Regions from separate parts of the Homo sapiens genome. Here region 1 is linked to region 2. The links come from fine-mapping of genetic effects on gene expression. Tissue or cell type: lymphoblastoid cells. Region 2 holds a variant in brackets; the other region holds the start of a gene. All regions are shown on one strand. Distances are between the middles of the regions.

Region 1 (8,182 bases), 880 kb before region 2:
AGCCATCCCTCTTAAGCACTTATCTCATGTATATAATTATTTTTTGCCTGCCTACCTCTTCCACGTATCTCCTGAGCTCCCTCAGGGCAGAAACCATGCCCGTATTCACCTTTGATTCTTTAATACCCTGGATAACAGGACACAGTGTAGGCTCAACAAGTGTCTGTTGAATGCATGAATCAACAAAAGGCAGGTGGACTAAAAGAACCATCCTACTTCTCTTCTTTGGGACACTCACACCATGAGACCACCTCATAAGCCTTGCCCCTGTGAGTTTCAGGCCGTCTTCTCAAATAGACTTACCCACCCATCGTAAACAAACTGCATCATGCGAACTCATTCCTTCCAGGCATTACTAATTCTCTACAAGTCCCTCCCCTGGAACCTTACAGTGAAAGTACTCAAAGGTCTCCCTTCTGAGGAGAATATCTCACTGCAAGACACCACCTAGAATTCCACAAATTGATAAACCAAAACACGATGGGCATGACATTCACATATATAACTTCCTTCTCCACCTAGATCGCAGGGGCGAAAACAAAAAAACCCTTTGCTTTGTAGCCTTCATCTTGACCTAAAAACACCCAGAATCCTGATTCTGGGGCCAACCAACCACCTACTTCCAAGCAGTAACAATTCTAGGCACTCTCCAGCCTCCGTTTATCTTCCTTAGTCCTTTCTGATTACTTAAGCAGAAAACACATACACACACACATCTAGGAAATCAACAGCAAGGAAGCAACAGGTTTCCCAGTTAAAAACAGATGTTCTGACTTTGGGTGCATAATTGCCACACCCTTAATAGTTCTGTAATAGCTTCAGCTTCCACTGGCATCTAGCAATAAAGATTTTTAAAGACAGTCAAAGGTCAGGCCCAGAATTACAGCTCCAGCATGAATCACCATCTACTCTATCCACTTCATGTTTTCCCATACTCGGGCCCACACCACCAAGGCGATCTAGTAAGAACTCAAATACCAGAATTAACAATGTCTACTGCACCCTGGCCATGGGGTAGGAACCACAGCAGACCCTGGGAATCAAAGGAGACACAGCAAGGACTCTCAAGGTATTTATCTGATGGAGAACACACACAAGAGGCAGTCACAGCACAGAAAAGCAAGTGCTACACAGGATTACAAGAACGCCCAGGAGAGGCATCCAATCTATGCTGTAGCATCATAGAAGGCCTTTCAGAGGCAGAGGGACCTTTCCCAGAAGGCTGAAGAATGAGCAAGAGGTGCCTGGAGAAAAGGTGTGGTGGGAGAGGCTTCCAGGAGTTCCAAGTAGATGCTAGCAGGTAAGAAAGCAAGACCTCCTGTGGAAACTGAAGGTAGGCAAGCATGGCCGGAATTTTAAAATGTGAAGGTGCCAGGCAAGGTGGCTCACGCTTGTAGTCCCAGAACTTTGGGAGGCCAAGGCAGGCAGATCAGTTGAGGCCAGGAGTTCGAGACCACCCTAGGCAACATGGCAAATCCCCACTCTACAAAAAATACAAAAATTAGCGGATGTGGTGGTGCCCACCTGTAGTTCCAACCACATAGGTGGCTGAGGCGAGAGGGTCGCTTGAGCCCAGGGAAGTCAAGGCTGCAATGAGACAAGATCGCACCACTGCACCCCAGCTTGGGTGACAAAGGGAGACCCTGTCTCAAAAAAAAAAAAAAGTGTGAAGGGAGAAGCCTCTAAGATGACCCAGGAGTCAAAGAGACCCTAAATAGCTTGGTAGATTTAAGTCTCAGAACTTTGTATAAAAAGAGTGAAAGTCCCTTACCTGTCACGAACAATGTAAAAACAAGCCAAACGACTATTTGACAAATGTATCTTGGCACTTACTAAATACTAGTTCCACAATGCACGTTGCTCAGAACACTAACAAGGGTACGAAACTCACAAGAAATTATCATGTGCTTGTAAACTGTTCCTTGAAACATCAGCCGCCATTACCACACGTCTACCTTCCTCTCAGCATTATTTCTTTAATTTTCCTGCAAATAACAGAAAAGTAGGTTTGTCTGGGCTTTAGGGGCAGCGATTAACCCTGAAAATAAGAGTTAATTCTCACCACAATAATACGGTAGGGAATCGAAAAAATTAAACAAGGAAACTAAGCAAAAAGATGGAGGAAATGAAACAGTAAAAAGCAAATTTAGAAAACTCGAGAGGAAGTAAAAGTATTTTCATACACTCAAAAAAAAGAAGTGTCCCACGTGCTTCAGCCAAACCAAACTCCCCTTAACTGTTAAAAACAGAAAATCAAAAGAAGAGCTGTGAGAAATTCATACTTTCGTATCTCTTTGCTGAATAAACACTAAATCGGTACAGTACAGCCAGCTGCCCTGAAAGACCTTGAAATATTAGCCCCAGATAATACAGCACATGACAGTCACCTCCAGAAACTCTCAAAAACCACAAATCATTTCTTGTTCTGACAACCTGATCTACCAACTCTGGTCTAGCCTGCCATTTAATAATCAATAACGTTTCTTGTTAAGCACTTCAACCGTAGCAAAGGAAGATAAAGAAGCATTTGTTTCCAAACCTAAGGTGAGACTTTTTAAATTGGCGCAAGGCGTCTCCATAATCCTTTTCCGCCAATTCCTAATTTCTAAATGTCAAGAACTGGCAGCAGCAGTCCAGTTCCTAGGAGCCCTGGTTTTGAGACAGCACCACCTCCGAATTCCCTCAAAGGGCGTTCTGAACTCACTGAGCAAATCCGGCTGGCTTTCATGTCCCTCTAGCCATTTCTTGCCGCCATGCACTTACAGGAGAAGGACTCGCAAACAGCGGGAGCACCGGGAAAGCCTGGGACTGCCGCCCCCCACAGCACAGCGCTCGGCACAGCGTTAGGGACAGAAGTCACCGTTGTTGAGCCCAGGGCAGCGATCCCAGCTGGCTCGGCCCCCGGGAAGGGAGGAGAAGGACCGGGTCTACTCCCCGAGGGCGATGCTCCCGGGGCAGGGACAATGGGCAGGGGACCCCGCGGTGTGGCGGAGGAGGCGGCGGCCCTCCCCTGCAGGTCTCGGGAGCCCGGCGGCGCTGAGAGACAGGCGGGCCGCCTGGAGCGCGGCGCTCGGGCCTCAGCGCGGCGCAGCCCCCGGGCCCGTGCCCCGCTGGTCTCGGGCAGGGGCTGCGGCCCAGCTCAGAGCCGCCGGACCGCGGAGGAGCCGTCCCGCCCCCGCGCCCTCCGCCCTCCGCCCCCAGCCCCGGTGCGACCCCCGTGCTGCCCGGCGCACTCGCCTGCCCACGGTCTGGTTAGCCAGCTGCTTCATGCGGTTGAACTGCTTCTTCATGGCGGCGGTGGCGGCGGCGGCCCGCGGGGCTCGGGCCGGGCAGGGCGGGGGACAGCCTGGCAGCTACTACATCGCTTCCCGGCCCAAACGGCGGCGCGGCGGTGGCTCCCCGGGCCGGCGGCCCCGCCCTCGCCTCGTCACTTCCAGTGGCACCGCCCGCCCGCCCTCTAGGTCTGGCCGAGCCGAGCTGAGCCCGAGTAGAGCCGAGTCGAACCGAGCCGAGGCTAACAGTGCCTTACCTGACACGGGCGAAGAGCTAGAAGGCCCCGGGCGAGAAGACCACTAGGCCTCCTCCGCCTGGCCTCCCCGACCCCAACGCTGCCCGGTCACCCTCTCGTTTATTTCAACGTATGAAAAGCTGTTTCTAGCAGGGCGCAGTGGTTCAACGTTGTAATCTCAGCACTTTGGGAGGCCGAGGGGGCAGATCACTTGAGCTCGGGAGTTCGAGAGCAGCCTGGCCAACACGGTGAAATCCTGTCTCTACTAACAATACAAATTTAGCTGGGCGTGGTGGTGGACGCCTGTAATCCCAGCTACTCAGGAGGCTGAAGCAGGAGAACGGCTTTTACCCGAAAGGCAGAGGTTGCAGTGAGCCGAGATGGCGCCACTGCACTCCAGCCTGGGCAACAGAGTGAGAGACCCTGTCTCGAAAAAAAAAAAAAAAAAAAAAATTAAAGTCAATGTGTGTTTTCCTTAACACACGTGCTCACACACTCATGTCTTCCTGGTTTGGTGGCCTTGGCTCCAGGTAAGCCCCTTCTTTGCATTGGATGGGCAGCAATGTGGCTTCTTTCATCAGCCACATCTCAAATGTGCTCCTAAATGTCATAGAAAAAGGAAAGAGCTCCCTAACTATGGGATAAAGGAGACTGATGCCAGTTTGGAATTCTTAATATCAAAGAATGAGGGACTTCAAGATCTTTTTAGTGACCTAGGAGAGACCTAGGAAGCATCAGAGCTTCAGATAGGGCAGCAAACTAAAAGTTATCGACATCAATTACAACAGAAAGAGGTAGAAATGAGCCTTCCTAAAACAAGAAAGCAAGCACTACAGGATCGGTTGCAGGACCGGCAGCCAGCCCTGGAGTCAGCACATTCAGGGAAGGCCGGAGGTTCCCATCCACACTGCATCCCCTCCATTCCATGTGGTACCCATCATGCTTCAGTGTTCCACGACGCTTACATGGGTTTTTATGACATAATTTCATCATAACAAGAAATAAACAGATAGTCCAATGAAGTTCTAAAACTTGAGTCTCCAGTTGGCCATTGGAAATGTATTGCTCAGACTTATAAAATAGGAGGAACAACTAGTTTTGATGAAAATGAAATCTACAAACTACAAACACCAAATATTAATATCATCAAGGAGCTCAAACAAAAAAGAAGTCAGGATACTGATGACCATCAGCTTGAATTATCAGTATTACAGAATGTTCATCAACAGAAATTGAGGGAAATAAGTTGTAAGCATCAAGAAAATCTAAGCAATTAGGAAGAAAAGATTGAAGAACTGGAAAATTTGTTACAGCAAGGTGGCTCAGGAATTACAGTACATGATCTCTCTAAACTTCAAGAGAAGGAAAACACTATTCATGCAAGCTCTACAAATTGAAAAAGTAGAGTCTACCAAAAAATTGAAGAATTTGAACATAGAGTAAAAGACAAATAAAAAATTATCTTCTGGGGCCAGGTGCAGTGGCTCACACCTGTAATCCTAGCACTTTGGGAGGTCAAGATGGGAAGATCACTTGAGCTCAGGAGTATGAGACTAGCCTGGACAACATACTAAAACCTCATCTCTATGAAAAATTTAAAAAAAAAAAAAAGGCCAGAAGCAGTGGCATGCACCTGTACTCCCAACTAGTTGAAAGGCTGAGGCAACAGGATCATTTGAGCCCAGGAATTTGAGGCTGCAGTGAGCTATTATCACACCATTGCACTCTTGTCTGGGTGACAGAGTGAGACCCCTAGCTGAAAAGAGGCTATTGGAAGAAACAACTCTGAGAAAACCATGAAAAGATTGTCCACTGAAGCTAACCTGGAGAGCTCTGCCTTACAGCTAGAGCAAGAGTGTGTAATTAAACTCAGCCACGAGAAAGACTCTGAAATGTCAGCACTCAAAAAGAATATTGAGGCTGGGTGCAATGCATCACACCTGTAATCCCAGCACTTTGGGAGGTCGAGGTAGGTGGATCACCTGAGGTCAGGAGTTCAAGACCAGCCTGGCCAACATGGTGAAACCCAGTCTCTACTAAAAATACAAAAATTAGTCAGGCGTGGTGGCGGGCGCCTGTAATCCCAGCTGCTGGGGAAGCTGAGACGAGACAATCGCTTGAACCTTGGAGGCAGAGGTTGCAGTGAGCTGAGATCTGGCCTCTGCAGGGTGGTCCAGCCTAGGTGACAGGGTGGTCCAGTCAAGGTGACAGAGACAACGTGACAAGGTTACTGTCTCAAAAAAAAAAAAAGAATATTAAACAGATGGACACTGACCATAAAGAAACTAAAGAAAAAGTGCTCCTAAATTTACTCCAAGAGATTGAAGAGCTAAGAAAATCGCTGCAGGAAAAAGATGCAACCATTAGATCCCTCCAAGAAGACAATCAGAGACTGATTTGATTTTGTCATCTAGTTGAGAAGAGCAGAAGCAATTGACACAACTTATAAGAGAGAAAGCAATTTTTTTAAAAAAAAACTTAAAGGAAGTTCAGAGCTTCCAGAGGAATTATTATACTAAAACCTTAAGAAAGAAAGAAAGAAATTTCATAGCAAACCATAGAGGAAAAAGACAGATGTCTTGCATCCATGAAAGAAAAAAAAATCTGATAGAAGAATTGAAATGACTCAGAGGACAACAAAGTCTAACTGCCCCTGTGGCTGAGCCTAGAATGGTAGATACTATTATGGTACTAGAATTGGAGATATTTCAAATGAAAATAATCAAAGGTAATCTTGAGGAGGGAATAAAGTATCATCAAAATATATTTGAAGGTTGGGCATGGTGACTCATGCCTATAATCCCAGCACTTTGGGAGGCCAAAATCACTTGAGGCCAGGAGTTCAAGAAATCACTTGAACTTTGGGAGGCCAAAATCACTTGAGGCCAGGAGTTCAAGACCGGCCTGGCCAACATGGTGAAACCCTGTCTCTACTAAAAATAAAATTAGCCAGGTGCGGTGGAAGTGCCTGTAGTCCCAGCTACTCTGGAGGCTGAGGCAGGAGAATCGCTTGAACCCAGGAGGTAGAGGTTGCAGTGAGCCAAGATCGCACCACTGTACTCCAGCCTGGGCAACAGAAGAAGAATCCGTCAAAAAAAACAAAAACAAAAACAAAAAAGACTGAAGAGGCCAGGCACAGCGGCTCACGTCTGTAATCCCAGCACTTTGGGAGGCCGAGGTGAGTAGATCATCTGGGGTCAGGAGTTTGAGACCAGCCTGGCCAACATGGCAAAACCTTGTCTCCACTAAAAATACAAAAATTAGCCGGGTGTGGTGGTGGGTGCCTGTAATCCCAGCTACTCAAGAGGCTGAGGCAGGAGAATTGTTTGAACCCAGGAGGCACAGGTTGCAGTGAGCCAGGATTGTGCCACTACACTCCAGCCTGGCCGACAGAGCAAGATTCTGTCTCAAAAATAAATAAATAAATAACCATAATTGAAGAGCAAACACAGAGTAAGATGCAACTGCTTCAGTCTTTAAAAGAGGAGAAAAAAGTAGGAAATGGATGATTTTTAAAACCAGCACAAGCAAATGAGTATCACATACACCCAGCTCTTTTCAGTAAAAGGTGAAGAAATTAGGAATTTGCAAAACACAATAGGAAAAGAATCAAAACCCAGCTGCATGAAACAGGACAAGACATTAAAAGACTCTGAGCCATTTTTCAAGCAACAGAAGTTGAATGTCCCAATATAGAAAGCAGAAGTGAAACGCATAGTTTATTTAAATCTGAAACTGAAAGATTAGTGAAAGGAATGAAAGAGCAAGAATTGGAGATTAATCCTGAATCAAGGACCAGAGGGGGAAAGAAAGAATTGGAGAATAAATTTATAAGTAAAAATAATATGACTTTAAACAGATGGATCAGCTGTCCATCAATGGGGTTGGTCAGGAAGATACAGAGGTGCAGGGCCTTCAGGCTAGAACAGCTTCAGCCTCTGACACCCAGGGCGTTGCTCACCTTCAGCAGCAACTGCAAGCACCTGCTTTGGACAGAGAACAAATACAGGCTGTTTGGAATAAGGCAGCTCAAGAAAATAGCTGTCTCAAAAAGGAAGATCACCAAACAATGGATATTATTGCTGGTAATGAAACAGGCCCCCATAAGCTGCAAGAGGAAAATAAAAAACTGTCCACTAGTAATGGTCAGGAGAAATTTAAAGACACTTTTCAGAAGTCATCATGTCTCATTCTAGAAAAAGACATTGAAACAGATGCATTAAGTCAGGAATGTCAAACTTTAGTGACAATTTTGCAAGCATCCAGCACTGGTCATGAGATTGGAGGTGTTAATGGTAATCCGTTTGAGGAGCTTCCACAAGGACCTAATAAATTAAAACAGCCAGTTAAGAAAATGGAAGTGTGGGCCGGGCGTGGTAGCTCATGCCTGTAATCCCAGCCCTTTGGGAGGCCGAGGCGGGCGGATCACCTGAGGTCAGGAGTTTGAGACCAGCCTGGCCAATATGGCAAAACCCCATCTCTACTAAAAATACAAAAAAAAATTAGCCGGGCGTGGTGGCGGGTGCCTGGGAGGCTGAGGCAGGAGAATTGCTTGAACCTGGGAGGCGGAGGTTGCAGTGAGCTGAGATCGCACTATTGCACTCAAGCCTGGGCGACAAAAGTGAAACTCCATCTCAAAAAGAAAGAGAGAGAGAGAGAGAGAGAGAAAGAAAG
Region 2 (8,182 bases):
CAATAAATCATTGCACCAAAAAAAGCACGTGCACCCGTATGTTCATTGCAGCGCTACTCACAATAGCAAAGACATGGAATTAACCAAGCTGTGGAATTAATCCACAGTGGATTGGATAAAGAAAATGTGGTACATATACACCATAGAATACTACACAGCTGTAAAACAAGAACAAAATCATGTCCTTTGCAGCAACAGGGATGCAGCTGGAGGCCGTTATCTTAAGTGAATTAACACAGAAACAGAAAAGCAAATACCACATGTTCTCACTTATCAGTGGGAGCTTAACATTGGGTGCTTACGGAGTAAAGATGGGAACAGTAGACACTGAGGAATACAAGATGGGGGAGGGTGGAAGGGAACACGGGTTGAAAAACTGCCTACTGGGTACTGTGTTCACTTGCTGAGTGATGGGTTCAATTGTACTCCAAACCCCAGCATTATGTAATATACCTTTGTAGCACACCTGCACATGTGCCCCCAGAGTCTAAAATAAAAGTTGAAAAAAATACTGGGGGCCAGGCACAGTAGCTCACGTGTGTAATCCCAGCACTTTGGAAGGCCAAGGCAGGAGCTCACTTGAGCTCAGGAGTTCGAGACCAGTCTGGGCAACACGGTAAAGCCCCATCTCCACAAAAAATACACAGATTAGCCAGGCATGGTGGTAAGCCTGTAGTCCTAGCTGCTTGGGAGGCTGAGGAGGGAGGATCACTTGAGCTCAAGAGGTCGAGGCTGCAGTGAGCCAGGATTGTGCTGCTGCACTCCAGCCTGGGCAACAAAGTGAGATCCTGTCCCCCCACAAAAATGATAATATAAAATTGGCCCAAAGGGGCACTTTGGACACAGACGGGCTGGCTACATGTGGTTCCGGTCCCAGAGGGGATCCTTTGCTGGCTGCGTGATCATGGGCAAGTCACCCAGTTCCTCTGAGCTCTGGCCTCTTTACAGAACTGTGATAAGGATTGAACTGGATAACACATGGGGAGTGTGTGTGGTGGTAGGGGGGCAGTAGAACCCACCCACAGCTTCCTCTCTCTCCCCCTTCTTCTCTCCCCCTCGTTCTGCCGTTCTGCCTGGGGGAGGTGCTGGATTGTGTTCCTGGCAGGGCTGCCTCACTGAAAAGACTCTGGCTGATGAGATGTTCTTTAGAGCAAGGTTTCAAATCTTTTTTTAGTTTATGTTCAGGTGCTTTGCTTTCCCCCCGCCCCCTTTCTCATTTTAGCAGATGAGGACTCTCGCTATGTGTGACAGCTGATATTCTGAAAATGACAAGGTGCCTCATTTGGGACAGAATGTGCTTGGGGATTTTTATGTGTGTGTGCACTGCGTTCATCTGAGTAGATCCGCGCAGGCGAGCCCTGGCAGTGGGTCACAGTGAGCCGCCTGGGACTCAGACAGCTTCAAGCTCCAACTGAGGGAAAGGAGGAATTCACCCCGGCCTCTGTCCCATGGAGAGCTGCAGAATCTTTCTTGCTCAATGTCTTCTCACTGTCCCTGGATTTTGCTTAGCTTCTATCAAACTAACAACCTCTTGACTCACCACCTGTGTCCAATCTCTCACCCTCAAACTCACCTTGCTTGCAAACTGAAAATGACTTTAGTAGTGCTAATGGCACTCACATAGTTAATACTTATTTTATGTGCCTGGCAGGATCCTGAGCTCCTTGCATGTCATCTACTCATTTATTAACAGCAAGTCTTTGTGAGACCAATCTGATCATTTTCCTCCCTTTCTGCAGAAATATGACTGCCTTCCCATACACTGGATCAAGATTTCCCAAACTTTCCCTTCTTGCAGATCAGCTTCATGGTTTTACGATGTAAGGACATCACTGTGGATGATCTTCATGACTGCTGTCATATAGTATACCACGTATGCCATATGTATGCAAGCTTTTCCTGTAAATTAACTCACTTTGGGAAATATTTATGTAGATTAAAATACAATAAATTATAGCTTTCATTCAAATGCACACTGCCCTTTGCCATCTCTATAAGGTCACCGGAAGCATGAATATGATGAAAACAGAACAAAACCAAACAGTGTTATTAAATCCTCTCTGGGAGCTGTTGACAAGGCACTCTGCCTGAGGCTTGCTCTCTTTGTGCTAAAAATGGGGCATGAATAAGAGAGGGAGATGTTGAAGATAGAGCAACACCAAACCAAGACTTTCTCCTTGGTGCAAAAACAAGACTTACGTGAGAATTTATAAGGGAATACTTTTTTCATGTAACTCAATGCTCTTTAGTGCTGTTTTCATCTGCCTCCTAAAATGCTCTCCTATTCGCTAACAGCAGCGTCTTATTTTGAGAAATACTGGTGGACAAGATGGACCCTAACTTGTTTCACTGTCTAGATGTCTTTCACACCGTGGCACAGTTACTTTTTCTACCAACTGCAAGCTCACCTTTCTTCCTTGATGTCTTTCTCTTTCCAATCTCTCTGTTTTTGCATCTGCTGTTCTCCATGACTGAAAGATCCTGTCCTTAACTGCAAATGGCACACGTCCATGCATTTATTTCAGATGTTACTCCAGTGTTGTCTTCTGTATAAAGTCTTCCTCAAACCCCAAAGCACAGTCAGTCAACCTCTCCTCTGTTGACAATATAAATGTTCCCCCCATATCAGTTGGTGCTGTATACTGAAGGTTTCTGAGGGAGACATTATTAGGTGGCTAACCCAACAGGCATTAACTTCCATCTTCTCTCTTGCTCCTTTCTCTGTAGAAGCTGAAAAGCTTGGGGTATACTTTACCAGCTTTCCCTGAACCTACAGAGGAAGGGCCTATGACCCAGTTCTGTCCAGTGCAATGTCAGGACAGGTATGCTGATTGAACTCCTTTTTAAATTTTTTTTTTTTAATTTTTGAGACGGAGTCTCACTCTGTTGCCCAGGCTGGAGTGCAGTGGTGCGATCTCAGCTCACTGCAACCTCTGCCGTACGTGTTCAAGCAATTTTCCTGTGTCAGCCTCCCAAGTAGCTGGGATTACAGGCGCATGCCACCACGCTCAGCTATTTTTTTTTTTTTGGTATTTTTAGTAGAGATGGGGCTTCACCATGTTGATCAGGTTGGCTGATTGACTTCTAAAAAGGTGTTTTGCTTCTTAGGGGTAAGGAAAACATGGCAAAAACCCCATGAGGACTTCTCCTTCTTCTCTCTTCCTGTCTTAAAGGCAAATGTGAGAACTCCTTCAGTGGCAGCCTGCTGTGATCACACAGTAACAAACATAAGAAGGATGGGTCAATATAACAAGGAAGGAAGAATAGAAAGGAGCACACATCCCATTAGGAAATCATGAAGCTGCCAGGCCAACCCTGGGACCAGCAACTTTCAAATTCCTGGTTAAATAAATCATAAATGTTCTCCTGCTTTGAGCCATTGTTAGCTAGAAGTTCTGTCATGCATAGTTGAAAACATTCTTAACAGATAGTTTAACTGGTCTTCATTCCTTACTGGATTTTGTGTAATTTTAAGATAGGTGTGTAACGTTTATCTTGGTAATCTTGTCATTCAAATAGGGTACGTGGTAGTATTTATTATTAGTTACCTACAAAACAGCTTATATTTATTCAAACTCTATGTTCTTCTGTTTCCCGAGCTTGGATCCTTAATCCCTATTGTTATTAATGTCATTAATGAAAGTGGAATGAATGAAAAAATGAATGAATAACTTACCAACAGGAGGATTTGCAAAAAATGCTTTTTATGCCACCTTTAACAACTTTATTAGAATTTATATTATAATGAAAAAAGTGAGTCTCTGTTGTTTGTTCTGTATTTATTTTGTTTTTGATTTATTTTTATTTTTTGCTTTTTGTATCCTAACCCATAAGAATTTACATTCTTGAGCTTTCAGGGAGGCATTTAAGGGAGACAGTCAGGGTGTTATTTGGATCCTCACATGTGCCAGGCGTGTTAGGAGTGCGGGTTAATGCAATACAACAACATTGGGATGTAGCTGTTATTGCTCCCTTATTACCCGAGGAATGATAGACTTGGGTAAACTTGATAAAGAAGCAGAGAGCTGTTGAGGCTGCAGGGCAATGGTAAAACATACACACTGGCTGGATAGATTGCTGGAATCTATAGCATCTTACCCCCAAACTCCCGGCACTGTAACATGGGACCTCAGGGAGTGACATGGGACCTCAGGGAGAACTAGGGATTTTTTTCTCCCACTATACCCTGCAAAATAAAGAGAGTTGAAGATTTTAATGTAGTCCTAGATTACATGATTACATTACTCTAGATGCCATGTTCTTCCTACTCTGTTACTCAGCACCTGCTTGAGAAGCCGCCATGATACTCTGCTACTGACATTGATCTTTTATTCTGGAAAGTCAAGACCATGGAACCCCTTGGCGCATCCTTGGAGAGAAGAGTTGAGTAATGACCTGTGTGGTATTAGGGGAGGATCTCTGGCTTCCCTGAGCTCATATGCATGGAATCCTCCTTAGCTAGTAGTTACTCTCTCATCTCCTCTGCAGTTTCCTGGTGAAGTTACCTGTGACAAATTTCTCCCTTGCCCCTGAGTACTTTTCTCTGTTTCTGCCCTAAGACTTAGTAGCTGTGGTCCATGGGGTCCCAGGGCCATGTAAAAATGTCTGAGAATGGCTCTCAGCATCTGCAGAAACTTAACCAGTCTCATGAGGGCTGGCAGTGCAATATCCCACGTCCAGCTCCAGGGAGTACTAGAAAATCTTCAGCAACCATTCTTAAAATGCTCTTTCAGACTGGGAGTGGTGGCTTACGCCTATATTCCCAGCACTTTGGGAGGCTGAGGTGGGTGGATCACTGGAGGTCAGGAGTTCAAGACCAGCCTGGCCAACATGGAGAAACCCCGTCTCTACCAAAAATGCAAAAATTAGCCAGGCGTGGTGGCTGGTGCACATCTGTAATCCCAGCTACTCAGGAGGCTGAGGAGGA[G/A]AATCGGTTGAACCCAGGAGGCAGAGGTTGCAATGAGCCGAGATCGTGCCACTGCACTCCATCCTGGGTGACAGAGCGAGACTCTGTGTCAGAAGAAAAAAAATGCTCTCTCATCTTTCTTCTTCCTTTCTCTGTTCTCACACAGAAGAGCTGTTTCAGCCCCTCTTTCCTCAAGCTACCTACTGCTCTTCCTCCATCCTTGCTTTCTCTTATCTTTTTCTTGTCCTCTCACCACTCCTTTCATTTTTTCCATTACAGAATTCTCCCAAAAAACTGGCAAGGCAGGGCCTTCCTTTAAGTTTTGGAAAATGGAGAAAAAATGAGTTTCACTTGCAAGGAAAGTTTGGAAACACAAGTGTAATAACACCGTTGTATCTTATCATATGTCTGTGTCTCCCATCTACCAGGTCTGTTGCTGGGTCTCTGCTTATGTCTACCTCTGCATCACATCTCCACCACGATATGGGTGTTAATCTATTGTTCTTTTTTTCTGCATTTCCCCATTTCTTCCTCACCTATCTCCTACTCCTGCCCCCAACCAAATTGATAATCAGCTCACTGTCCATGGCCTTGAGTGGAGATATGATAGGAAGAAAACTGATGTTGTCACCCCTACACTTTCTTCCTGGCTTTTGTATTCAAAAGATGAAGCCCGGCATCATGGTGGCTCATGCCTGCAATCCCACACGTTGTGAGGACAAGATGGGAAGATCGCTTGAGCCCAGGTGTTTGAGACCCCGTCTCTACCAAAAAATTGAAAAAATTAGCTGGGTGTGGTGGTGCACATCTGTGGTCTCAGCTACTCTGGAGGCTGAGGTGGGAGGATTGCTCAAGGCTGAAGCTGCAGTGAGTTGTGATCATGACTGCACTCCAGCCTGGGCAACAGAGTGAGATCCTATCTCAAAAAAAAGAAAATAAAAAAAGATGAAACCATAGAAAAGACAATTATTTTGGATATGAAGTAGCATCATGGGAGGAGTGTGGGTCCCCTCCTCATAACCCTGGAAAGAGGTTTTCTACCTTCAACCCATCAGTTGGGAGATGAGTGAAGAGGGTTGACAGAGAGATCTCTGGGTACAGAAGGGAGGTGACCCAGGCTACACTTCCTAGACTCATGAACGGGAACCCATAAAATCACAAGAAAGCGGCAATGTGGTGGTTCTAGGCAAATGGGACTCCAGACAGCATTAAAAACAAAAAAAACAGAACAAAAAAAACAACGTCTGGCGGATGCCTGGGTGCAGTGGCTCATGCCTGCAATTCCAGCACCTTAGGAGGCTGACGCAGATGGATTGCTCGAGCCCAGGAGTTCAAGACCAGCCTGGTCAACATGGTGAGACCCTGTCCATACAAAAAAATACAAAAATTGGCTGGGCATGGTGGCATGAGATTGTGTCACTGCACTCCAGCCTGGGTGATGGAGTGAGACTCTGCCTCAAAAAAAAAAAAAAATGTATGGTGTTAAGCTTGATAATGAAGCAGAGAGCTGTTGAGGCTGCAGGGCAATAGTAAAACATCCATACTGGCTGGAAAGATTGCTGGAGTCTACAGCATCTTACCCCCAAACTCCTTGCACTGTGACATTAGACCTCAGGGAGAAATAGTGATTCTTTTTTCTCCCACTATACCCTGCAAAATAGAGACTTAGGATAAGAACTGAAGTTGTTTTACAGGAAGATGAAGAATATACGTGTGTGTGTGTGTGTGTGTGTGTGTGTGTATGTATATGTATATATTATATATATGTATATGTATATATTATATATATGTATATGTATATCTTATATATATATATATATAAAATCACATATCACACACACACACAATTTGGACTCTCATGTTTGAATGCTGTAATTCATGCCTGATTCATTGCATCATTACCTATAACAATATGTATATTGATATGGGTATGGTTAAATTAAGTGCCCTTCAACTTTGCACAGTCCATTCTCAGGGCATCCCTTGTAGATCCACATAGCAACTGACGTTCCTTACTTATTAGAAGCAAAAGGGAGGATTGAGCATACTTGTCCACATCTTTACCTCTTCTTTCTTCCTTATGCCTGTCACTCTATACTCTCATTTCTGTTCTGCCATCTTGAACTTCCTCCAGTGCTTCCTGCATGCTAGGCTTTCTCTCACACAGAGCTTGCACACCTGTTGTTACTGATGTCTAGAACTGCTTCCATACTCCCCTCCCACATTCTCTAAACAATACGCACTTTTTTGCCTGAATAGTTTTTGCATGTCCTTCAAGCCACAGTTCAGAGGTCATTTTCCATGTTTTAGGAAAATTCATTTGACCACTATTTTCCAAACTTGACGTATTTCCAGCACCTAAATAGTTCACCTAAAATGTACTACAGCTTAATAAATATTTGGTGAATGAGAGAACATTGAAATGAATCAATGGGTGGATAAATGAATAAGTGAGTGAATACATGCATGGGTAGATTAGTGATGAAACGATGGATGGATGACTGGATGAATAGATGGATGGATGCATGGATGAATGAATGGATGAATGGATGGATGGATGGATGGATGGATGGATGGATGGATGGATGGATGAATGGATGAATGGATGGATGGATGGATGGACGGATGGACAGATGAATGGATGGATGGATGGACGGATGGATGGATGAATGGATGAATGGATGGATGGAAGAATGGATGGATGAGTGAATGATGTTTGGCATTTCTAACCTCTCATGTCTTAGTGATAAATATAAGTAAAAAATATTCACTGCTCTTCAACTTCTTTGAGTCCATCATGCTGGTCAAGCATTTCCATATCCTTCATCTTGGTGTCAAAGCATTGAAATAACAGGTGGCAACATTTGCTTTTTAAAATCGAATATACTTTTGAGCTGCCAGAGGTGAGATTATTAAATGGGAAGCATAAATCTCTTCTTTAGTTTTTATACATTAGCACTGGCCGTCAGAATAGGGCACTTTCACTGGCTTGTGGGGACAGGTTGCTTGGCTTCCCAGATATCCAAGGGCAATGAAAGTCATTCATTCATTTATTCCTATCTTCATTCATTTTTTCAATAAGTCTTTCAATATAGCTTGGTAATCAAGAGAAAGAATTTTGAGATTTTAATAATACCTAATTCTGATTCTGTTTGCCAGTTAGTAACTGTGCATCTCTGGGACAGTTATGTATCTTTTCTGAGCCACACCTCGTTCCTGTATAAAGCGGGGCTCATGTATAAAAAAAGTATTTAACTGTAGGGTTGTTTTAAGCAT

Which allele goes with the higher level. Positions count from the first base shown, and alleles are read on the strand shown. Sizes are in standard deviations (SD) of each study's normalised expression.
For the expression in lymphoblastoid cells of the gene that starts at base 3,398 in region 1, allele A in region 2 goes with a lower level than allele G (large effect, 1.2 SD a copy in GENCORD).

The links. PIP is the estimated chance that this variant, and not a neighbour inherited with it, causes the effect.
Region 1: ARHGAP17 starts here. The variant in region 2 is fine-mapped to the expression of ARHGAP17 in lymphoblastoid cells (GENCORD, PIP 0.95).

What each region holds. Positions count from the first base shown.
Region 1 is chr16:25,011,972-25,020,153 of GRCh38, forward strand. ARHGAP17 (Rho GTPase activating protein 17) reads right to left here and starts at 3,398. Exons shown (of 20, transcript NM_001006634.3): 1 at 3,238-3,398. The coding sequence starts at 3,290. It also overlaps the pseudogene LOC100421171. RefSeq lists enhancers at 2,286-2,954, 2,955-3,623 and silencers at 2,937-2,986, 3,047-3,096, 3,157-3,206, 3,287-3,536.
Region 2 is chr16:25,896,657-25,904,838 of GRCh38, forward strand. All of the region lies in intron 1 of HS3ST4 (heparan sulfate-glucosamine 3-sulfotransferase 4), which reads left to right. Among named protein-coding and RNA genes, the nearest start is that of MIR548W, 120 kb to the right of the region's middle. The variant G/A (reference allele first, on the strand shown) is at 4,928.